Linked DNA regions of Homo sapiens: regions 1, 2, 3 and 4 are each linked to region 5. Evidence: fine-mapped QTL for protein levels in blood plasma. A gene starts in region 5. Each other region holds a variant in brackets. All regions are shown on one strand. Distances are between the middles of the regions.

Evidence for each region. PIP is the posterior inclusion probability: the model's chance that the variant is causal. Protein levels are from antibody-based Olink assays in UK Biobank. Linkage for the fine-mapping came from a reference panel and not from the study's own genotypes, which makes the PIPs less certain.
Region 1: its variant is fine-mapped to the plasma level of the CD200 protein (UK Biobank, PIP above 0.99).
Region 2: its variant is fine-mapped to the plasma level of the CD200 protein (UK Biobank, PIP above 0.99). The variant lies in the coding sequence of CD200. If it changes the protein, the assay may bind it differently, which can mimic a change of level.
Region 3: its variant is fine-mapped to the plasma level of the CD200 protein (UK Biobank, PIP above 0.99).
Region 4: its variant is fine-mapped to the plasma level of the CD200 protein (UK Biobank, PIP 0.96).

What each region holds. Positions count from the first base shown.
Region 1 is chr3:112,371,487-112,376,700 of GRCh38, reverse strand. It overlaps LOC105374041 (a long non-coding RNA gene), which reads left to right. Exons shown (of 4, transcript XR_924334.3): 4 at 601-860. Among named protein-coding and RNA genes, the nearest start is that of CD200, 41 kb to the right of the region's middle. The variant C/T (reference allele first, on the strand shown) is at 2,135.
Region 2 is chr3:112,342,521-112,347,520 of GRCh38, reverse strand. It overlaps CD200 (CD200 molecule), which reads right to left. Exons shown (of 6, transcript NM_005944.7): 3 at 2,233-2,559. Among named protein-coding and RNA genes, the nearest start is that of CD200, 12 kb to the right of the region's middle. The variant A/G (reference allele first, on the strand shown) is at 2,397.
Region 3 is chr3:112,348,521-112,353,520 of GRCh38, reverse strand. It overlaps CD200 (CD200 molecule), which reads right to left. Exons shown (of 6, transcript NM_005944.7): 5 at 3,702-3,809. Among named protein-coding and RNA genes, the nearest start is that of CD200, 18 kb to the right of the region's middle. The variant G/T (reference allele first, on the strand shown) is at 2,603.
Region 4 is chr3:111,409,861-111,415,074 of GRCh38, reverse strand. All of the region lies in intron 2 of LOC105374039 (a long non-coding RNA gene), which reads right to left. Among named protein-coding and RNA genes, the nearest start is that of CD96, 130 kb to the left of the region's middle. The variant T/A (reference allele first, on the strand shown) is at 2,145.
Region 5 is chr3:112,332,903-112,337,902 of GRCh38, reverse strand. It overlaps CD200 (CD200 molecule), which reads right to left and starts at 4,747. Exons shown (of 6, transcript NM_005944.7): 1 at 4,679-4,747. The coding sequence starts at 4,690. RefSeq lists enhancers at 1,910-2,669, 3,166-4,122, 4,123-5,000.

The sequences.
Region 1 (5,214 bases), 39 kb before region 5:
GTGGGTGCAATCTAATCAGCTGCCAGAAAGACTAGAATAAAGCAGGCAGAAGAAGGTGGGAGGAGCCGACTTGCTGAGTCTTCCGGTCTTTATCTTTCTCCCGTGCTGGATGCTTCCTGCCCTTGAATATCAGACACCAAGTTCTAAAGCTTTTGGACTGTGAGACTTATACCGGTGGTTTGTCAAGGGCTCTTGGGCCTTTGGCCACAGACTGAAGGCTGCACTGTCAGCTTCCCTACTTTTGAGGTTTTTGGACTTGGACTGACTTCCCTGCTCCTCAGCTTGCAGACAGCCTACTGTGGGACTTCAACTTGTGATCGCATGAGTCAATACTTGTTAATAAACTCCCCTTCATATATACATCTATCCTATTAGTCCTGTCCCTCTAGTGAACCCTGTGCCCAAATGGATGATGACACCATCCCCTGTTGATATGGACAGGAAACAGGGAAACACTAGGTAGAAGAGGGTGGTTCCCTGGCAAAGGCCCCTATCTCAAGCCTGAAGTCCTGTGGTCCTAAATGGGGACAGGCATTTCTGTTTTCATGTGAAGAAGTTGCCTTTTGGCCCACCATGCCCTCTATCCTGTATTCATATAAGCCCCAGGCTCCAGAAGCAGATGAGAAGATGAGGAGACAAGCAGATGGATTGCAAAATGGTGCAATAGAGAAAGAGAAAAGAAGAGGAATGTCTGAACACTGAGAGATTTCCAGCTGGGGTGGTCAGAGAAGGGTTCAGCCACAAGATGGCCAAAATCCAGGGAAGATCTTCTTCCCACTCCATTCCCTGCTTCTTGTTCCCCATCCATCCCACTGAGAGCCACCTCTACCACTCAATAAAACCTCTCATTCATCCTTCAAGCCCGTGTGTGACCTGATTTTTCCAAGATGCTGGGCAAGAGCTCAGGACACAGAAAGCTGTTGAACTGCCCCTCTGCCCTTGCAGAAAGGCAGAGAGTCCACTGAGCTGATTAACACCCAAGCCATTCGTGGATGGCAAGGCTAAAAGGGCACATTGTAACACACTCCACTTAGGCTCCTTCACCTGCCTGTCTGTGTGCTCCCCCTCCCCTAAGGGGTTTGAGGAGTGCTGGTGACTGAACAGGCGAGCCACACCCATCATATGTCCTTCGAGGGGGATCAGGGAACTCTCCTGTTTCACTGTAATAGAGAAAACTGGAGGAGGACCAGTTATGGGACTGGGAAAGACCAGGAGTTCAGCTTTGGACCTGTTCAGTTTGAGTTGCCTGTAAGTCAGCCAGTGGAGATGTTTTGTAGACAGCTGGATACATATATCTGAGCTCCAAGGAGTTAGAAGTAGTAATTTTGGACTTGTGAGTGTATAGATCATAACTGAAGACATGGCATGGATGAGATCACACAGGGAAAGAGTACACTATGAGCAAACAAGACAGCCTCTATCCAAGTTTTCGAGAATTGCAAAATTTAAAAATTAAGTACAGGAGGTTGGGCTGGAAAGATGAGAAAATCAAGGGCACATCATATTACAGATGACAATGAATTTCAAGAAAGAGTCTAATGTGAGACATGTACAGAAGAGGTAAAGAAAAATCATTAAACTTAGTGATATGGAGGTCACTAGAGTCCTTCTAGAAAGCAAAAAATTGCTTAGAATTTCAAGGGGACCGTGGAGTTGTCCCCTTATGTATGCCCCTGAGCCCAGGTTAAGAACTCCTACCTGTGGATTCCAAACAGTCATCTAACAGGGTAACCTAACTGGATTCAAAGTATTAATTTTCTACTCTCTCAATGGCAAGAAAAATTGCTTAGCTAACTTTAATGTCATTTGAAACTATGTGATTTTGTGTCCCAGGCAGGCTAGAGGTTCAAAGAAAGAGGTTATATTAATATAAATAAGGCAGCTTCTTTATTTGTCCATCGGAAAGTCTGTTCGTCTGCAATCATAGAAAGCATTAGATAAATCAGCTGCAGGGAGATAGCTGTACAGATGCGAAGCTCTGCCTGATGATTCCAGCCTATTTTCCTGGCATAATCAACAGTGACTTATTCCTTCCCTGGAAACTAATCTTCCTGTTTGGACCAATTGTATTATTCTTAACCACACCGTAGGTTATGGGCAACAGCATGAGTAAAATCTGGGAATTCCTGAGATG[C/T]GCTTCCAAAAAACTATGGTCGGGAATATGTAAATCTGAATAAATAAGAGCATGAGTTTATAAAAATTTCCAGTTCCACCCAATAAACTCTCTTCCTCCCTTTTTTTAAGAGATAAGATCTCGCCCTGTCACCAGCCTCTCTCCCTTTTGACCATTGAACCACTGAAACCCAACTCCAATTACTGAAGCCAACTATTTCATAACTCAGTCTCTCACACTCTTGAGCAGATTCAATAATAGGAAAGTTTATCTTTCACTTTTTCTGTTTTGGTTCTGGTCCTGCTCTCTGGATCTTTGTGTTAGTTTCCTATGGCTGCCATAACAAATGACCACAAATATGGTGGCTGAAAATGATAGAAATTTATTCTCTCACAGTTCTAAAAGCAAGGTGTTTGCAGAACTACATTCCATCCAAAGGCTCTAGGGGCAGTCTGTTCTTACCTCCTCCAGCTTTTGATGGCTCCAGATGTTCCTCAGCGTGTGGCCACATCACTCTAATTTTTGCTTCTGTGGTCACATTGCCTTCTCCTGTCCTCTGTATGTCTCGTATAAGGACACTTTTTACTGGATTTAGGGCATGCCCAGATAATCCAGAATGATCTCATGTCTAGACTCTTAAATTATATCTGCACAGACTCACTTATGAAATAATATCATATTCATAGGTTCTGGGGATTAGGATGTAGACCTATATTTGGGGGGATACAATTCAACCCACTACCACCTCCAATGAACACATCTATTTTCTCTTTCATAGAACTGCTTTTTCAATGGTTGAAGAAGCTGTTAGATTTCCTCTTGTTCATATTAAGGAAAAAATGGCTGATGTTACTGAAGCTCTACAATGTTCCAGGCATGTGCCAAAATAATATTACAATGTTAGCGTCTATTTTTACTTCCTATTCATTACCATTTCCCTTTTGTGCGTTATAACAGGTGGGGTCTTTTTGCTCACTGCCTCAGGAAAAGGATGTGGCGAGGGAAAAAGAATAGTAACTTATTCTTATTTTACAAAATGCTAAAATCTCAAGCTTTTGGGTAAAGTGAATCAGCACACGTGTGGGGAGAGAGAAGGAACAGAGCAGAGACAGGGAGACGATCTATGGATCCCATGAAAGAGGGTGCATGGGTAGATGTGATTGTGCTCAAACTGTCAAATAGGATGCTGCAAGGAGCCTGGGGCAAGTCACAACAGAAGAATTACAATTTGGCTGGTGTGGTGGCTCACGCCTGTATTCCCAGCACTTTGGGAGGCCGAGGTGGGCGGATCACCTGAGGTCAAGAGTTTGAGACCAGCCTGGCCAACATGGTGAAACCCTGTCTCTACCAAAAAAAAAAAAAAAATTACCTGGGTGTGTTGGTGGGCACCCGTAATCCCAGTTACTTGGGAGGCTGAGGTAGGAGAATTGCTTGAACCCGGGAGGTGGAGGTTGAGGTGAGCCAAGATTGTGCCACTACACTCCAGCCTGGGAAACAGAGCAAGACTCCATCAAAAAAAAAAAAAAAGAAAGAAAAGAAAAGAAAAAAAGAATTACAGTTCAAAGCTCGGTTTTGGAGTGAAGCCATACACATTTTCAGAAAAACGAAATTATTTCCTTTTGAGAAACAGCTTTTGGCTTACAATTGAGCCCTGGAAGTCCTTGATCATTGGGATACCAAGTTACTTTTTGCCCATAATTATGAACTGTGTGATTGATCCACCCAGGCATAAAGTCGGGCGTTCCCAATGACAGTATATCATCAAACAGAATTAGTATATATAAACCTAGGCTTGAGAAAGGCCTGAAGATACTGGTCCTCAGGATTAAATTAAGTTGTATGGGCAACTGACCATTCTTTCGGTGTATGTAGTCCTGTTGCATAGTCACCTGTCTCTCAACTATTTCAACTGCCTCAGTGGGAATTCCCATGAACAGCTGAATAAGGAACACAACAATCTAGACTGATTTATGAAGCAATGAAATTCAATATTCCACCTCATACTCTTTCAGAATTTTTGCTTCCTTTCCTGACAGCTCTGAATGAAACCACCCATGAAGACCTTTCAGCCAAAACCAAAGTTGCATCATTATCTGTGTGTGTAATCTTGAGTAAAATGTATTTCTTCATCTGTAAAATATAGGGGTCAGACATGATAGTTCTGAGGCCTCTTAGCTCAATGATTTTACTATTATCTGATGGGGGCCCATATACGATTCAATGTGGAAAAAAATAACAGGAAATCCACTATTTGGATAGTGGGTACACTAGAAGTCCAATCCCCAATAGTACATAATATATCTGTGTATCAAACATGCATATGTACCCCTGAGTATAAAATATAATAAAATAAAAATAAATAAATATATAACAAAAAATAAAATAAACAAAAAATAAAATAAAACAAAAATTACAGAAACTGAATATATCACCCAATTCCTCTGTCCCCTTTGTGCTATGAAACAATGGCAAAACCAAGAAATTTCCTTGTTTATTCCTTTGATATAGCCTGCCATTGACCAGAATGAAATATATCAAATTTCTGTCTTTAGAATAAACCTGAGTCTACGGAGTCAGATATCTGACTGAGGGAAATATTCACCAATTCAATTGAATTCATCTAACATTAGATCGCACATCCTTTTAGTGTCAGGGTCAAAATGCAAAGGCACACTTCCTATATTGGAACAGCCTTCTGTGGTGTGAACCCAGCCTATGTTTCCAGTACATTGCATGTTCCTTTCTCTGCTGCCCACCCTAACGTCCAGCCTAATGCTTCCCTTCCTTAGCCTCACTTGGTGTTCCACACCTCCTGCCTCTGCATATGCTGATCTCTCTGCCTGGAATATTTGTCATCCTGTAGTCCAACATTGTCACAGTTTATATGACGACTTCCCACAGCATCTCTAGAGAAAGCATCTTGTCTTATTTATTTTATATCAATAGAGCCAAGCAGAATACCTTTCTCATAATTGATGCTCAATAAATATTAGTTGGAATGAATGCTCAACCATGTGATTAAGCCAGTAGTTCTTACCTCCTGAGTCTATCTCAGGATAGAAGCAGTTCTCTTTTCACTCCATTCCCTCCTTCTTCAGTTC
Region 2 (5,000 bases), 9.6 kb before region 5:
GCACCTGGTCTGAGTCCTGCAGTCTCCTCAGAGAGATGAAGGAAATATGCTTATAGAAAGATAATGGAGGCTAGAAAGATAGCATGGCATATCCTACCCAAACTGGGGACTTTCCAGTTCCTCTTGTGTCTAATTTTCTGATCTGCAGGATGGAGACTGGCCTAGTACAAACCTGTGATGAGAAAGACCCTTTCTGTAATTTGTCTGTAGCAGAATTTGTCAGATGGACATAGAGTATTGAGAAGTCAGATGATACTTTTCTCTCCCAAACAGTCCTAATTATTCTGTTCTCTTCCAGGGGCAATGCAGCATCTCTGCCTTCTTCTGGGTATTCCTCTTAAATGGCTTGACAATAACCACCAACCAGCACTGCCATACATGTGTCCTGTACCTATCAGAGGCACTAGGGCAGTTTTGGAACAGAGAGCCCATAGAAAGGCTACTGCTTAGAGATAGCCATTTTCTTCTTGGAGCTGGACCAGTGAATTAGACGCATGGAGGAGAGCTGGAAAATCCCTTTTTGGAAGAGCTACACAAAACCAAAATTTGGAATTCGTAGCTAATAACCATAAAAATTAAGAAATGACTGTTGGAAGAGCACTGGAAATCACCTGATTAAGTTAAGAAAAACTAACTAGCTCATGAGAAAATTATTTTCAGGCCAGCTGTAGCCTGTACCCTTTTGAAAATCCCCTGACTAGTGAGTTCATTTTTGTTGGAATATAGAATTTTTCTTTTCTAAGCAGATGTAAACTTGTCTTTCTGTGGTTGGCTTTGGAGCCCACAAGATAATTAAATGGCAGTGCTAACTGAAAGCCTGGGCTGTGCTTATAGGTTCAAGAGGCAGGTAGAAGACACTGGGTTGGGGAAGTAGGGCTATGGAACTGTGGCTCTGGCTAAGATTACTAATGTCTGTGAGCGCTGGAAGAAGGGAAATAGAAATGAAAAAACATGAATATGGTTGATGGGCCAGACTGAGTGTTGAGGTCCTATGATGTATCAAAGAATGGCTTACATGAAAGTTATAAGGTGTGGATGGAAAAGGTCAGTGTGGAAGAGAACAGAATTACTAGCTTTAAAGCTCAGAGACATCTGCTTTTCAGGAAAAAAAAATACAAAAGTCTATGAGTGAAGGAAGGAGACTAAGAGAAAGAAAGGTGAGGAAAAGAGGAAGAGAATAAAAAGGAACAGAAATGAGAAAAATATGACACAAGAAAAAAAGAAAAATTAGGAGGAAGGAAAGAAGAAAGGAAGGCAGAGAGGGAGGAAAGGAAGGAAGGAGACAGGGAGGAGAAACAGAAAAAGAGAGAATGAAAGAAGTGGAAATCAAGAAAGAAACAACATAAGATTCTACAGAGAGGACTCATTATAGGCAAAATAAGTAAAAGAAATTTCTTTTGGCATTGTCCTATCTCCCTTGCATTCTCATCTACTAAGCCTTTTCTTCCCTGTGGGCAATATTATTGGCATGAGTAAACTCTCACCTTAATATTCCTAATAACCATAAGTTTGTCCTCTACTCCCTAAAACTACTGCCGTGTGTGCCATGCTCCAAAGTAATCTCTTATTCTCACTTCGTAACCTTTCATCTCAGCTGTGTGTCAGTTAAGAAGAATTTCATCAAACTAAGCCTCTTGGATTTTAAAAGAATGCTCTTGCCCAGTTATATCTTTAGTTGGCATCATTTCAGGTATGAAAAGGCTCTGCTCTATGTGCCCTTATCAATCCTGAAAGAGCTATCTCCCCAAGCAAAATGAGAAGGACAATCATAACTGGCTCAAGGCTAGTCCAATCTGGCTCTGTCCTTAGATCCAAAAAGTTGAAGTTGTAAGTGACCCTAGAAATGATCTATTTCACACTTATTGTCCAGACAATGAAACTCCAGTGGAGAGTGGATAGGACCCTTCTAGGGTCGCATGATTGCTAGTGGCAAAGCCAGGTCTGAATCATATCACTGCTTATGGAGAACTTGTTGCCCTCACCATTGTCCTCAAATTTCTCCTGTTGACAGCAGGATCCCTCAGAGAAAAGATAGCTCCAGCCAAAGAACTCAGTGTAGCCCCATGAACTCTCCAAATAATCATAAACACAGCTATAGTAGACAAGAAAGGCTATCTTCTCATGACCCTTTCTGTGGTTAAAATCCTGAAAAACTGGGCACTACGGCTATATTCCAAACATTCTTGCAAATAGTATTTCCAGACACAGACAATGATTCTCAGAGATTCTCACCATAGACGGTGAGGCAGGCCGTTCCTGAGATCTTCCCAAAACCAAAGGTATTGAAGAGACACATGTAACACCCTTCATCCTCCAGGGTGATATTCCAGAAGGTGATGGTTGAGTTTTGGAGTCCCAGCTGGGTAATGTTTATCTTGTCCTTATAGGCAGGCTGG[A/G]TCACCACCCCATGGTTCTCGCTGAAGGTGACCATGTTTTCTGGGCTTACAGCTTTCTTTTTCTGCCATGTCACAATGAGGGCTTCCTGGGCATTTTGCAGAGAGCATTTTAAGGAAGCAGGTGTGTACAGCTGCTCTCTTTCATCCTGGGTCACCACTTGCACTATGGAATCATAAAAGAACATTTATATTTAAAGATTGTAACACACATACACTTTTTCCTGATTATAAATAAAATGTATATTCAATGTCAAATATAGAAAAGAAAGAGAAAATGCAAAAAAGAAAACATTTATTTACATTCCTACGTGATGCCAGAGAAATATATAGGTTCAAATATGTTTGTTCAATCTTTAAAGAATAGTAGCAGAGTAGAAAAACAAGAGAGCAACTCTCAGTTACAAGAAATTGTGAATGATCTGTGTAAGCTGCGAAGTAGGTACAATGAGATTGAAGATGTAAACTGCCAGGTAGGATAGCAGCTTCACCAATCTTGTCCATGCTTGGAGAAGTAGAAGCAAAGAGCAGGAAAAGGCCAAAGGATAACAGGCAGAGTGACCACTGTAAGTAAAGAAGATGGAGCAGCCCTATGCATTCCACACAAACACACACACATACACAATCTACAAAGGAAGCAGGTGGAACAGAGGTGTCTGCCTCCAGGAAGCAAGAGTGTATATAGGAACATAGGTAAAGAGATTTATGGGACAATGTTCTGGAGGATCTTGAAGCTTTGGCACACAAATAATAATTTACACACCCTCTGCTTTCACTAAATGCTATGGTGGTAATTTCTTCCCTTCCTCAATATTAGCAACTCATACCATCATACATTATTTGATGGAAAATCTCAACATAAAAACAAATAGCCAAACTTTTGAGAAAGCCAATACAATGAAAGAGAAATAATAAACTTTACAAACCCAATAACTCATACAAAATGAATAAAGATATCATAAGACAATAAATACTTTGACATGAATACATGTGATGATATAAGTGTAATAAAAGCATAATAAAAGCATTATGAATAGTAGAAATTAGAGATATAGAAAATGAGGAATATAAAATTGCAACAGATAGGCTGACTTAGCAAAATAGATGCTACTGAAGAGTAAATTAGTAAAAAGTAAGAACAGGCCATGAAATTATTCTAGAATGTAGCACAAAGAGATAATGATATGGAAGGGATTAAGGAAAAATTCAATAAGTAGACTTAAATGTTCCAAAATCAGTTCAGTAAGACTTCTAAAAGGAGAGAAAAAAAAGAATGGAAGACAAAACCACTGTAAGAAGGGAAAAAGTATTTTTCAAAATGATAAAAGGAACAATCTAAAATCAGATCTATTATAGTAATCATAAACCTTTATGCACCTAACAACATAACTCCGAAATATATAAAGCAAAACTAATAGAATTACAAAGAAAAAATTTAAATTCACAATCATACCGAGAACCTTCAATTTAATATATTTAAACAATTGTTAAAGGAAAAAAAGTTAAATAGGAAATTTGAAAAACTACCAGGTACAGTGGCTGATGCCTGTAATCCTGGTGCTTTGGCAAGTCAAAGTAGAAGACTCACTTGAGGCCAGGAGTTCAAGATCAGCGTGGGCAAGAGATGAGACCCTTATCTCTACAAGAAATGTAAAAATTAGCCAGCCGTAGCGTCATGTACTTGTAGTCCTGGCTACTCAGGAGCATAGGACAGGAAGATTGCTTAAGGCCAGGAGTTCAAGGATGCAGTGAGCAATGATTGCAGCACTGTACTCCAGCCTGGGTGACAAGGTAAGTCCATGTCACAAAGAAAAGAAAATTTGAAAAACAATATATATTTATATATATACTTTAGGTATTTAATATTATCAATGTTTTATATGTTTATATTATATACACTATATACTTTATATGTATGTAGATCTCTCTCTCTGTGTGTGTATAAATATAAATTTCTTCCCTTCTCCAATATTAGCAACTCATACTATGATAGATTATTTGATGGAAAATCTCAACATAATAACAAATAGCCAAACTTTTGAGAAAGTCAATACAATGAAAGAGAAATAATAAACTTTACAAACCCAATAACTCATACTAAATGAATAAAGATATCATAAGACGCACACACACACAGACACACACACTTTACTCAAAGAAAGGATGTATAATCTTTTCAAAACACACATAAAACCTTCCTCCAAATTGAACTCAAAATAGGCTACAAAAAAGTTGCTACCCTACGTATGGCCTTGAACACCGTTCATAATACAATAAAATTAGAAATTTACATACTTCTTTTAAGTCTTAGGTACACCAGAAAGCATAGAAAAAATCATAAATTATTATAACTGAATGACAATGAGAACATAATATGTTAAAAATCTATAGACATGGGTAAGACATGCCTGGTGCAGTGGCTCACGCCTGTAATCCCAGCACTTTGGGAGGCCGAGGCGAGTGGATGACTTGAGGTCAGGAGTTTGAGACCAACCTGGCCAACAAAGTGAAACCCTGTTTCTACTAAAAATACAAAAATTAGCCAGGCGTGGTGGTGGGCACCTGTAATCCCAGCTACTCAGGAGGCTGAGGCAGGAGAATTGCTTG
Region 3 (5,000 bases), 16 kb before region 5:
TTGTCAGGAACCCATTCATAGGTTAGGTTATTGTGAAGAGAAGGAAATCAAGATAAATATACAGCTCATGCAGATGAAAAACATATTTCTACATGGATTAGCTAGTACTTGAAAAAAAAGTGAAGTTTGGCATATAAATTTTACATGATTGTCTAAATTTTCTATTGTTCTCCAAAGCAGCCTTGACTCAACCAAACCAAAGCAAAGCAAACCAAACCAAACAAAATAAAGCTGCCTAAAAATTAGGTGATTGTCTATGATGATCTGCCTCAAAGTGAAGTTTCTTTTATTGTTTCTGAGAAGCATGTAATTGTTGGTGGGTTGACTAATGAGAAATAAAAGATTATTCTCAACTCCAAATTTAACTACATTGTCATATATGTGAAAGGCACAACTTTATGAAATCACTGGGTTTTAATAGAAAGAAGTATTTCGAGATGGTGGAAAATTTCCCTAGGAAATTTTAATTCTTTCTCACTTACTGTTTTAAAGTGCTGGATTCATGAAAGAGAAAAGAATGCTCTTTGAAATCTTATTAGTCTTACTGTGGTAGTCTCCTGGGAAGTAACTGTGATAATTCTATCAGGAGTGGTGCAGAAAAATGGCCTGTGCTACTTCGCAGTTGGAAAAAACCAACGTCATGCTCTCTGGCATTATACAGGATCACAAGAAAAGTAATGGTCGTCTAACTTCTACGTAAAAATAACATCAGTAACTGTAAGTTTGCTTAGGCATTTGTGAGCAATGAGTAGTGATTATGACCTAAAATAAACTTCTGTTTTGGTCATTTACCCAACACAGAATTGACCTTACTTAACAGACTTACCTTACTTACCAGATTTTTATTATTGGCTACTGGACAGCTACATGAAGATAATTCTTTGTCTGCTCACACTCAATAAATTCAAAAACTTATTCGTCTGTCTCCTTTGCTTTTCTACAAACTCTAAACACTCTCTCTCTCTCTCTCTCTCTCTCTCAGTTCCACCTCTTCACTTTAGTGTTTCTGTTCACATCACCATTTTTGAGGTCACCAAGTTCAAAACCTTTGTATTATTTTGGACCAATCGTGTTTTCCTGCTCATTTGGAAATTTTATGTTTTCAGATGATGGAAAGAAAAAGAGAAAGAAAAGAAAAGTAAGGATGAAAACAACTGGAAGGCAAATGTGTAGGACTATTTCCCTTCCTCACAAAATATCAATCAGAATTTGTTAATGGTAGAAATAAAAAGTGTCACTATCTTCTATGATTTTCTGTCCTTTCTCTTTTCTTTGTCCCAACTTTTTGTATAACCTGAAGTTTGGTCTAAATGAACCAGTATTTTCTTAGCCCTGAGCATTTAAGCTTCAGCATAATTGACTCTTGGTTTTACTAGCTGTAAGTGTATGATGCCAAATTATCTGGCTGTTAAAATTTCTAAATCAGTTGTTGTAGTTTGGATACTTGATCCTGCAAACCTTATGTTGAAATCTGATCCCCGGTGTTAGAGGTGGGGCTTAATGGGAGGTGTTTAAGGGGGGAAGATCTCTTGGGAATTGATTAATGCCCTTGGTGTGAGTGAGTTCTCTCTCTGTTAGTTCCCATGAGAGCTGGTAAAACAGCCTGGCAGCACCCTCTTTTATTTTCCTGTCTCGCCATCTGATCTCTGCACACACTGGCTCCCCTTTTCCTTCTGCTATTAGTGGAGGTAGCTTGAGGCCCTCACCAGAAGCAGATGTTGGCACTGTGCTTGTATAGCCTTTAGAAACCAAATAAACCTCTTTTCTTTATGAATTACCCAGCCTCAGGTAACTTTTGTAAGCAACACAAATGGAAAAGAAATGAGTCAAAAATCCAGTCATTCAGAGGAATTAATGCAATTGGCCATATGTCATGAAGACATCATCAGTAAATGGCAATCCTGATGCGTACAGGAGTCAACATAGGTTCAGGTATTTATTTCATAAGTGAGGAAAAACTTGGGCAGAGAAATAAGCTGATTCTTTTTGCTTCAAGAATCGGATATTGGCATTGAATGACTATATTTCCCAGAAAATCCAAGACTTGCTTAATGAACAAGGGTAATTATTTTGCATGTCTCTTTCCAGTAGAATTTACCTCAGGCTTGAGTAGATTGCATTATAAAACTTTTGCCCAAGAGGGACTTTTAAAAATGAATTTAAATACTTTATACTTGTCTGCTTGCACTTTCCAAAAGAAAAGGGCATAGACAGTAAGCACAGATTAAGTGAATGCAACTGATAACAATAGCTCCTTTCAAGTCAAGACATTGGGGCATCAGTAATGACAGGAAGAACATTTGGCAGAGGTCAGGGCACCGGGGTTTAGTCCTAGCCTGCTCTTAAGAAGCTGTATAAACTTATGGAAGGAAGTCAGCTTTCCTCTCTGGGCTTCAGTTTCCTAATTGGAAAAGAAAAATTTCTGGATAAAGTAGAATCAAACAGACTTCTGTCTTTGATTTTATTCTGTGGAGCACTTATGAGTTCCACAGGCTTATAATTATGTGTAGTAAGATTAACTGATTTGTAATCTTCTCTCCTGGACAGAACAAATACCTTTACCTACTTTTGCAAAAGGGCCACTGACACTGAAGGCTTTTTG[G/T]GTGTTTTATAAATTCACAAGAATTAATCTGGAGGATTATGCAAAATAAAGTGGTCAAAAACTTGAAACATGAACAAAAACATAAAAATATAAACATAAAACTAAAAGGAAACATTTCTATAAAACATAAAATGAAAGGAAAAAATGAGTGAGATTTTTAATCAAAGTCTAAAATAGCTATCAAAGCCAACTATTTTTCTTTCCTGACCCCTATCCTTCAGTCATCTGAAATGGAGGAAACTCCCACATCACCCCTTCACCCTAGCAAATTTCCATTACACAAAACATAAACTGCAGCTTTGTATTCACTTCAATAAATTATGCATTGTCTACAGAAACCAAAGACATTTCATTCTTCCTCTCTATCTAGCTCACTGCTCTTGCTTTATAGTGTCTCTTGTTTTATAATTTCTCACAATATCTTAGACTGGCGTTTATGAGGTACTGAATTTACAATAGGAGAAAAGGAATTGAAAAAAAATCACCTTAAAAATTCTCTCTGTCCTCAATCAGTTCATTCAGTAAATTAACATTTATTCAGACCCTGGTATATATAAGATGCTGTGATAGTTGTGAAAGATAAAGAGAAATTTACAGTCTAGAAGGGCAGAATGGCATGACACAGTTACTGTAAGTATGGATCACTTGCATGATGCTGACAGTGTTTGAGGCATCGTGGGAGTATAACACAGAAAGTGCTACTTAATGAGTGATCATAATTGGACAATTGCAGCCTCTTAAATGGGCAGATGGCCTGTGAAGTGCTATAAAAAGAGAAGAGATTGTCCTTCTCATTAATGAGTGGAAAGGGCCTTGTGTGGGTGCCAGACTTCTTTCTTTGGTTCTATCACCATTGTTTGATTTCATTAGCTTTTAAGTCATCTTAGCAAACAAAAAGCAGAAATGTCCAATTTAATGTCCAATTGCAAGAAAATGCCCCGACGCATTTTAAAACAGTATCAACATTTCTGTATTTTGGAAACAACAGACAAAACACATTGTTGCCATTCCCTTATTTATATCTTCAAATGACTCACAAATTGTCATTAAAAATCAAATTTAATTTATGTCATTTTTTGAACTCCCTGTGACAACTCACCTCGGTCCTGATTCCGGTGACGTTTCCAGTACAGTAAGATTGAGATTAGGACGAGAAGAATTACCAGGGAAACAATGCTTAGCAATAGCGGAACTGAAAACCAATAGCCTATAGATATTGAAGAAAGAAAAAGGAAAATGACATCACATGAGGAAATTGTTGAGGCAAAAAGAGTTGAGCTTTTAGTTAAAATTATCCTTAAATACATACATATGTAGGTTTATACGTATGACTTCATATTATTTTAATAATATTTAGATATTAGTAATAGCTAACATGTTTTATCTGGCTACTGTGTAATAAGAGCTTTAAACTTATCGCATTTAATCCTCAAAACATCCCAAGAGTTATTATTTTCTAACAGATTTAAAGAAAACTGAGGCTTTGAGAATTTAACTGAGATCAAAATCAGAATAACAAATGGGATAGCCAAGGTTTGGTTGAAAGTCTGTTTGCCTCTAAAGCACATATTCTTTGCCATACTGTCTATTAAAAGAATACATGTTTATTGAGGAAATTGTGGAAAATGCAGAGAAGTACAAAGAAAGAAACATGAATCTCATGATTTCAACCCCCAGAGATAACTCATCTCAAAGTTTTTGGTAAATTTCTTCTTATCTATGTCTTTAATGCAACTCAGCCTAAATATCAGTTCCTCAGTGTCATGTTGCAATGCAAAGGCAAATGAGGAACTCCTTGATTTGGGAGTCTCTAGCATCTTCTCCATACCTCCATAATGGGATTCGTCACATCATTATTTAACTGAACACCTCAGACCTCAGACAGGGATTTGTTTGATTTCTATAGGTCCAGTGCTTGACATAATGCTTTGAGCATGGAAGTTTTTTGGTAAATGTTCACAGAATAAACAAACATTATACAAGTGGTATATAAACACTGTAAGTGATATAAGTCAAATCTGGCATTCTTGGAAAAAAAAAAGACATTCTTTTTTAGGTTCTTGTTTTTCCAGGAAATATACCCTTTGCCATGGCTGAATCTGAAGATCTCTTCACAAATATCCAAATCCAACACTGCAAGTCTTTTTGACCAAATTTACCTAAATATCCAATTTCTGATTAGTCTGGGTTTTCAGGGACTCCAAAGGCCACTGCAGTAAAGAGGTGGGTGTAGAAAGCTTTTCCAGTTTATTGCTCATAATTTCTCCAAAAAAGAGGAGTAATACTTTTTAGGAGGCTTATTACTGACTGCTTCATCAAGAGTCAGTGCTTCAAAACTACACAGAGAAAAGACGTGGCTATTATTGCTAAAACTTCTTGTCTTTATAATCTCTGCTCC
Region 4 (5,214 bases), 920 kb after region 5:
ACTACAACTTTATTTGACCCATCATCACAGCACAAAATTGCCCTTATTTCTCCTGAGATTCTAAAATGTGTTTCTTTTATATTAGGTAAGAAGTATCACTTATAAATAACAATTGGAAAATATAAAACATGAATCAAGATATAGGGAAAACTGTACCCTTTCTTAGTAAAGTCAGAGAAAGGAAGAAAATGGCAACAGAATTTTGGGATTTACTGCAAAGCTGGTCTGGTGCCAGCTCACACTTGAACAATTCTTTTTATTCACATCCAGAAAATGTTTTTAAATATGCAACTCTCTGGTTTATGCACATATGATTTTGATTACATTTCAGGCTACATAGCTACATAGCAATTAGTTTGTACAGATTGGCTGAAGTGCTGCACATCCCACTTGGAAATCCTTTAACTAGATTAGAAACCCCTGGGTCTGCACATTGAAAGTTATTTTCCAGAAGGAATCTACAGTAATTAGTGATTAGTAGGTTTTCTGCACCAGCTGTTTCACAGTCTGAGACAGTTAATCCATAAATGCATTAATTATATTAGATACGTAGGTAAGAAATAAAAAGTCTACTAAGTGGGAAAATTACTGAGCTATTCTAGTTTATTGCAAAAAAATAGTGTCAGTGATTAACTGTCTCTAAAGCATAATACAGACAAATTAGCTCTTGTGTTTGAGTCAATGAATTATAGATAAATACCATTGGCTGTGAATTTTCACAAGTATACGGATCTTTTTAACATATTTAGAGGAGTTTGAGATTTATAATTTAGATTTAGAGGAGTTTGAGACTTAGAGAGTTTGAGATTTGAAAATACATTTGTAAAACATAAAAATACAAAATGATGTATCGTTTTCTATCGATTAGATTATTTGGCCATTACCAGAGACCTAAAGAACTCTTCCAGATGTTAGTTGGCAATGCAGACTACCACATCATGTACCTCTGCATTTTTGTGATCTGAAAAATCTGGACTACTAGAAACAAATTTTGTTAATGCAATGAGTTCTAGTATTCTGATATCAATTATATATTTTCCCAACTCTCATAATAATTTTCAGACATTTTTAGTAACAGAACTTTAGAGGTTACCACTATTTATTATATAATATTTAGGGATATGAAACCAGTCTTAGTAATATTTCCCCTTTTCACGGAACTGAACATGGTTTCATATAATACTCAAGTTGTTCAATAGATGTTCCTAGAATTGAATCATCTACTTCAGAGTGTCAGTTGAGGAAATAGATGCATCCCACCAAAGACTTCTTTATATTCCCAAAGTACACAATCCCCTTTATTATATTTCATGAAGATAGTGAACACCAATCCACTCCCCAAATACTGAGAATCATCCCCCCAGAGAGAATCTCTGTAATATTACTCAGATCTATTGGAGGAGATAGAAAGGTGAATGCCACTGATGTGGTCCAACCATATCACTTACAAAAACGAGGCCATTTAGACTAAGAATATTAGGTAACTTAGGTTATATTTTGGAACTGATATTAAACTAAAAATTGTGTCATAGTCAGATGCATATTAAAATGTGTTAAATTGTGTGAAAAGTAACATCTGAGAGTACAGAGAATATTGGGATTCTTATTTCTAGGCAAAATTGAGTAATAGTGGCTAGATTTATTCTCTCATCAAACCAACTAAAAACATAGACAAAATACATGAAACATCTGTTAACAAACATCAGGTGGCACAGAGCAATGATCACTGAGAGAAGAAGGACAAATAGGTGAGCCATATAACTTCACTAGCTTACTTCCTGGAGAGAGTTTCTGGACTAAAGCACAGGGAGAGAGGGAAGCCACACAGAAACCAGCAAACTCATTGAGTGGAGAAGATGAAGATTGGTGTCTAGGTGATATGGTTTGGCTCTGTGTCCCCACCCAAATCTCATTTTGAATTGTAATCTGAATTATAATCCCCAAGTGTCAAGGGAGGGACCTGGTGGGAGGTGATTGGATCATGAGGGCAATTTCTCCATGCTGTTCTCATGATAATGAGGGAGTTCTCACAAGATCTGATGGTTTTATACGTGTTTGACAGTTGTTCCTGCGCGCTCACTCTCTCTCCTGCCACCTTGTGATGAAGATGCCTGCTTCCTCTTCTGTCATGATTGTAAGTTTCC[T/A]GAGGCCTCCCCAGCCATGTGCAAATGTGAGTCAATTAAAGCTTCCTTGGTTACAAATTACCCAGTCTTGGGTATTTCTTCACAGAAGTATGAGAATGGACTAATACACTGGATGAGTCAACATGGCTAGAGTTAAAAATTAAAATACCTGAGAGGAGAGATCTGCATAGAGAAAGAGTTCTGAGGATATGCCAAGGGTCCTGAGTATTAAGCAGCATATTTTTATGAAGATACTACCCATGACGGAGAAAAATCTACTCAAAAGGCTGAGTATAAGTAATCCCTGGAGCTCACACATGACTGGGAATAATTTATGTTCCCCTCAGCCAGAGTAAAAACCTTTATTTTTATTTGTTTATTTATCTCAATAGGTTTTGGGGGAACAGGTGGTGTTTGATTGCATTAATAAGTTCTTCAGTGGTGATTTCTGAGATTTTGGTGCACCCATCACCTAAGCAGTGTACACTGTACCCAATGTGTAATCTTTTATCCCTCACACCCCTCATACCCCTTCCCTTGAGTCCCCAGAGTCTATTGTATGATTCTTATGCCTTTGAGTCCACATAGCTTAGCTCCCACATATCAGTGAGAACAAACAATGTTTGGTTTTCCATTCCTGAGTTACTTCACTTAGAATAATGGTCTCCAATTCCATCCAGGTTGCTGCAAATGCCATTATATCATTCCTTTGTGACTGAGTAGTATTCCATGGTATATATATGCCACATTTTCTTTATCCACTTGATTGATGGGCATTTGGGTTGGTTCCACATTTTTGCAATTGCAAATTGTGCTGCTATAAACATGTGTGTGCAAGTATATTTTTCATATAATGACCTGTTTTCCTCTGGTTAGATACCCAGCAATGGGATTGCTGAATCAAATGGTAGATGCACATTTAGTTCTTTAAGGAATCTCCACATTGTTATCCATAGTGGTTGTAGTAGTTTACATTCCCACCAGCAGTGTAAAACTGTTCCCTTTTTACCACATCCATGCCAACATCTATTATTTTTTGAATATGGCCATTCTTGCAGGAGTGAGGTGGTATTGCATTGTGGTTTTGATTTGCATTTCCGTGATAATTAGTGATGCTGAGCATTTTTTTATATGTTTGTTGACCATTTGTATATCTTATTTTGGGAATTGTCTATTCATGTCCTTAGCCCACTTTTTGATAGAATTGTTTGATTTTTTTCTTGCTAATTTGTTTGAGTTCATTGTAGATTCTGGATATTAGTTCTTTGTCAGATGTATAGATTGTGAAGATTTTCTCCCACTCTGGTTTTTCTGTTTACTCTGCTGACTGTTCCTTTTGCTGTGTAGAAGCTTTCTAGTTTAATTAAGTCCCATCTATTTATATTCGTTTTTGTTGCATTTGCTTTTGGGTTCTTGGTCATGAAGTTTTTGCCTAAGCCAGTGTCTAGAAGGGTTTTTCCAATGTTATCTTCTAGAATTGTTATGGTTTCATGCTTTGATTTAGGTCCTTGATCCATATTGAGTTGATTTTTGTATAAGGTAAGAGACAAGGATCTAGTTTCATTCTCTACATGTGGCTTGCCAATTATCCCAGCACCATTTGTTGATTAGGGTGTCCTATCCCCACTTTCTGTTTTTGCTTGCTTTGCTGAAGATCAGCTGATTGTATTTGGGTTTATTTCTGGATTCCCTATTCTGTTGCATTGGTCTATTGCCTATTTTTATACCAGTACATTGCTGTTTTGGTGACTATGGTCTTATAGTTTAAAGTTGGGTAGTGTGATGCCTCCAGATTTGTTCTTTTTTCTTAGTCTTGTTTTGCTATGTGCACTCTTTTTTTGTTCCATATGAATTTTAGGATTGTTTTTCTCTAGTTCTCTGAAGAACGATGGTGGTGTTTTGATGAGAATTGCATTGAATTTGTAGACTGCTTTTGACAGTATGGTCATTTTCACAATACTGATTCTGTCCATCCATGAGCATGGATGTGTTTCTAATTGTGTTGTATATAAGTTCTTTGAGCAGTGTTTTGTAGTTTTCCTTGTACAGGTCTTTCACCTCCTTGGTTAGATATATTTCTAAGTATATTATTTTTTGCAGCTATTGTAAGAAAGGTTGAGTTCTTGAATTGATTCTGAGCTTGGTTGCTGTCGGTGTATAGCAGTGTTGCTGACTTGTATACATTAATTTTGTATTCTAAAACACTGTTGAATTTTTTGTCAGTTCTAGGAGCTTTTTGTATGACTCTTTAGAGTTTTCTAGGTATACAATTACATCATCAGCAAAGAGTGACAGTTCAGCTTTCTCTTCACCAATTTGGATACCCCTTATTTCTTTCTCTTGTAAGATTGCTCTGGCTAGGACTTCCAGTACTATGTTGAATAGATGTGGTTAAAGTGGGCATCCTTGTCTTGTTCCAGTTCTCAGGGGAAATACTTTCATTTTTTTCCCATTCAGTATAATGTTGGCTGTGGGTGTGTCATAGATGGCTTTATTACATTAAGGTATGTCCCTTCTATGCTGATTTTGCTGAGGGTTTTAATCATAAAAGGATGCTGGATTTTGTTGAACGCTTTTCTGCATTTATTGAGATGACTATGTGATTTTTGTTTTTAATTCTTTTTATGTGGTATATCACATTTATTGACTTGTGTATGTTAAACCATCCCTGCATACCTGATATGAAACCCATTTGATTATCATGGATTGTCTTTGTGATATGCTGTTGGATTTGGTTAGGTAGTATTTTGTTGAGAATTTTTGTACCTATACTCATCAGGGATATTGGTCTGTAGTTTTTTTTAATATCCTTTCCTCATTTTGGTATTAGGGTGATACTGGCTTTATAGAATAATTTGAGGAGAATTCCTTCTTTCTCTTTCTTTTGAAATAGTGTCAATAGGATTAGTAGCAATTTTTCTTTGAATGTCTGATAGAATTCAACTGTGATTCTGTCTGGTCCTGGACCTTTTTTTTTTTTTTTTTTTTTTTTTTGTTAAGTTTTTAATTACCATTTTAATTTCACTGCTTGTTATTGGTCCGTTCAGAGTTTCTATTTCTTCTTGACTTAATCTAGGAGGGTTGTATACAT
Region 5 (5,000 bases):
TTTATATATATGGGAGGATATGCATAGGTTATATGCAAATATTACAGCATTTCATATAAGGGACTTGCACCATCCACCAACTGGTATCTGTGAGGGTCTTGGAACAAAGCCCCCATGGGTCCCAAGGGACAACTATACTTCTTTCATTTATTCTATTATTAATCATCTCTATTGAGTCTGACTTCATGCCAGGCACTATGGTAGGTACTTTGGAGACAATGGTGCATAAGGCAGATATAGTCCCTAACTTAGTTAAGTTTACTATCCAGCTTATGTATTTACACACTATTGACAGATTAATTTTCCTTAAATTCCTCTTTGTACAAGATGCCATCTTCTTCTATAGCCCCTAACTATCTAGAGAAAATTGTTCAAAGTTCTTAGCCTGTTTTCATTCTTGCAAATTCATTTCCATTGCCTTCCTATGTATCCCCTCCCTGCCAGCTAGCCTTTTCTACTTCTAAACGCACCACGCAATTTCCCGCCTTGGTATTTTTGCTTGAGCCATTCCTCCTACATGAAATGTCTTCCCCCTCACTTGTATTTATGTAAGGTCTTACTTTTATGAGCCTGATTACAGTCATCTTGCCATACAGATCCTCCTCTTCGGAAGCATTTTCTGCTTAGGTCTTTTGGAACTTTTAGTGCTCCAAGAAGATTCAAGCCTCTTCCTCCAGTGCCAAAGGGGTCCCATCTCCCTTTGTCTGCCATGCCACAGCTTCCAGATCTTGTCTGAACACACCCATCTGCTTTCCAGTTTGAGAGAAAATGACTACTTCCCAAATATACCCACCATATACCCCACACCTTGAGACACTGTTTCCAGCATGCTTACTACCTGTCAACACCCCTCACCCCCCGCCACTCCCCCAGCTATCAGTCTTTCATTCTCTCTTGTCAGTGAAAAAAATTATAGCACTAAAGCAGGCTTGACAGTTTTGAAACTACTCTTCTTTTTCAGACTGAGTTAAATTCCTGAGGTTGGGACATTGTCTGCTTGTTTCATTAGAAACAGTCTCTTATTTGGCTCTGTCTATTCTTTTATGGTATTTAGCAGTATGATCATAGTCTTCCATAAAGTAGTGGTCTCTTGGTGCCTGTCTCATTGCCCCCCAAGAACCTCAATATCCACTGAATCCTGTTGCTTTAGCGGGATGTCCTGACCACTTTTTCCTTAATGAACCCATCACGGGCATCCCTTTCTGAAGTTGTTTGTATGTTCTTATCGGCTCCTGTTTAGCCCCATCTGTTGCTACTATAATTTGAAGCTTATTTCTAGAATATTGGCCCATAATCACTTAAATGACCTTGCTTTAGGGTCAGGATCATTGCTAAAGGGTGGTGTTCTACCTGTGGGAATCCCATCCCCTCATTCTCGGTGTTTGCCTTAACTAAGCCCTATTTTTGCCATTCCTTTTAGATACAATGACTTCCCTGCTGGAATTCATTTTCCTTATCACTCCAAGCTGGGTCTTTCTGTTTGCCTTTCAATTTCTCTGGGATTTTTATTGTCTTGTGATGGCCTTCTTCCTGTGGGCTCAGGAGCAGCGGGTCGGGAATGGAGTTCTCAAGGATCTAAATCTCTCCTCCTTTACCTGCCACAAGGATTTCTCTTCCTTTTCCTGTCCAATGGGAGCCACTCAATTTTAATATCCTCCTACTCAATGGATTTGTTAATTTTAATTCCAGTCAATACATGCCCTTTTCTTTCCTTATGAAACAGCCACGACCTAAACTTAATGAGGGAAATTTCAAGAGGAAGTACCAAACCAATTCCAAATAACAGGTGTTTCACAAACATTAATCTTATATAATAAGCTTCATTTTTCCTCTAGCAAGAGAAGTTACTAACCAAGTCCCTTCATAGGTAGGGGTAGAAAATTACCTGGTAATCATTGATGGTGGTCTTTCCTAGGAGTGTAGCTGTAAGGAGAGGGCCCCCAATTGTCCTGGTCAGAGTCTGTGGTTTGAGATCAATGAGATGATAAAAATTAGAGCCAATATTGTCTCAGCTCTCTTGGGGCCAACTTGTACCCTGGAGGTGGTTGTGTGTGTTGAGCACCAGAGCTGTCATGGTCTGGGTGAAGACCCAAGATCATGTTAGAGACTGGCCTGCTGGAAAAGGGCTCTTCTTCAGCATTCACTCTAACTGCCAGAGACAAGGAGTCTCCATCACTATCTCCATCACAGTATTCCTGATGGATCTTTCAGGATAGATGTCCTGGAAGGAATGATGTCTCGCCGCCCTGTGGCCTATCCCAAGTGCTGCCACATACCTGAGTGTCTTCTTGTCTTCAGCTAGAGAGAACCAATCACTTAGACTCTCATCCTGGACCCCATGCAGTGGCATCATAGTACACAGTAATACTGATCTTTGTGATGTAAGTTGCTTTTTCCTTACATCTCTAAGGCTACAGAGAATTCAAGATTATATCATCTGAAGGTGCCATTAGGACAAATTATTCTTTGCAGATATATTTTATTATTCGATACCCAAGCATACCATAAGCATGCTATCCCTTCCTTGTGACTTCTCTTCCTGTCTTCATAGGTCTAAGACTAATAACATAGTCACTGCTCTTTGAGAAACCCAAGATGGTTCAGCTGCCTGAATACATACAGCCTACAAAGATCTGCTCACCCTGCCCATCCACTGCTGGGTATTATACTCACAAAGGCTTTGGTTTTGAAGTGAAAAAAAATATATAACTCGATAATTTTCTCAGTATTACTGAGACTGTTCCATCCTATCTAATTATCTAGGAAAGTCAGAAAAAATCAGGCCAAATATTTCCTCAGGCTCCATTGCCAGTGCCCACCCAACACATTTTGTTTTATTTTCAGCTAAGGCAATTGTGGAGACAGATACTGGCATTCCAATTCTATGTGATATTTTTTAAACCATTAGGCTTCTCTGACGTGGAAATCCAGGCTCTACCAGAGGCCATGATGAAGAATGCAGAATGGACAAGCTCTCATAGAGAAAATCTGTGTTTTAGGACAAGAGAGAAAGCAGATACATACCAAACCATATATTGTGGACTGGGAGCCAGCAATGTTAAGAAACAAAACACAGTGATTGAGGCAAAGGAAATCAGAAGGAAAGCCTTACTCTTAAATAGATACGTATTTTTATTTTACAGGTTTTTTTTTTCCTCGAGTCTGTGCAGAATAACTGAAAATACGACCAATCTGAAAACAACAGTATTTATATGTTTACAGGGAGGTGACCGGGGCTAAAACAAATACTAGATTTGTGAGCAAAAGAAATCATTTTACCTCTCTGAGACTCCGGAAAAGTAATAGTACCAATCTAATGGTTAAAAAGACTAAATGAAGTAGTATATAAAGCTCCTAGAATACTGCCAGTAGAAATAAGCACTAAATAAATGTTGCTCTTATCTCACATAGTTATTATGAGAATTAGGCAATTAAAGCACTTAGTATAGAGCCTAGGTTATAGTAAATGCCAATACGTGTTAGGTAGCTAAAAAAATTAATCGATCAAATCATATAGGGGGAACTACAGTCCTGAAAACAAAGAAGCCCACTTATAACCCTTGCCATGCAGTCCAGGGTTCACAAAAACCTGGGTCTTACCAGACAGCTGCCCACCTGGTAGCTATATTGCCCCTATTCATGCCTCTTCCTCAGCAAGTTTCTATGTCCAAATCCACATTACCCCACATGTAGTCACAAGGACTTGGAAATATCAGCCTTTCCGCCTGTTTATGTGTAAAACGAGGTAATAATTCATTTTTAGAAGGATAGTTACAAAGAAGATTAACAGCATCTAGCTTGCAGTAGACCGTAGCTCACAGACCACCATTCTCCTTTGTTAAGAAAGACAGTGAAATCATTGGCTATGTGGTCTTGCCAACAAACCATACATGAAAAAATTATCTTGAGGCATTCACTGTATTTGGATTCTTATACCAATACCATTGTATTTGGATTTCATATACCAATGGGATATATGAAAACCTTCTCCGTTTTTTGTCTTGTAAGCTGGTTCCGAATAAACAAAATGTCTGTTTCTCTAGATACCCGGGGTTAACCCTTCAAAGCATTATGATCACAGAGCATTTCAGCTCTCTCAAGTGTAGCTTCAGCTTTAACTGATCCTTCATGGCTTCCCCCAGGCAAGGGCTAGGAGGGAGAAAGGGGCTGCATAACAAAGAGGAGACGCAGGAGCTCTCCCGGAGAAAGCGAGCCTGGAAATCTGTATCTCCGCCGCAGCTTTTGGTGCCAATATGGAACCAATACAGCATTTCTCTTTCCCTTTTGGGGGCAGTTTAAAATAGGCTGTGCCTCCCCAGTTTTGGGAGCTGGAGCCAGTGAGCCGAGCCGAGCCTGCCCGGAGGATGCGCCAGCTTCGTCAGCGCGGATCAAGAGCCCCCGGAGCCCCGGCCTGGTGCATCTTTTTTTCAGGCAATTGGAATGGAGAATCTGGACGCCAGCAGCTGCCTGTAAACCACCCTTTGGAAGGCAAAATCCGTTTCTCAGCAAGAGAAAGCGCTTAGAGAAAAGCGCTGCCATCAACACCGCTGATCTAGTCCCCGGACCAGATTGTGGCAAGAGCCGAAGCTCCGCGCCTTCCACTCGCCGCCCGCCCCAGGGCCACCGGCTCAACATCGCCTGCCCTGCGCCCTCCTTCCCAAGCCCCGGCCCCGCTCACCAGCCTCTCCATCCTTGCTCCTGGAGGCGCGCGCGAGGTGGCTGACTGCGGATGTGCGCCTGGAGCTCTGCTAGGCAGGCGGGAGGAGCGTCACCTGTGCCCCTGCCGCACCTCCCGCCTCTTCCTCCTCGCTAGCCCCCTTCTCCCACTCCGTTTTCCCCACGCCCTCACAGGAGCGGAGGCTGTCTGTGTGGGGGGAATTAAATGATGTTTATATTCAGCTTTGTCTATTTTCAGACATTTTTCCCTTTTCAAAGGTGACCGCTGGGGAAACTGACAAAGTGTTTGGAAAAAAAAAATCATTTTTTTTTTTCCATTTTCC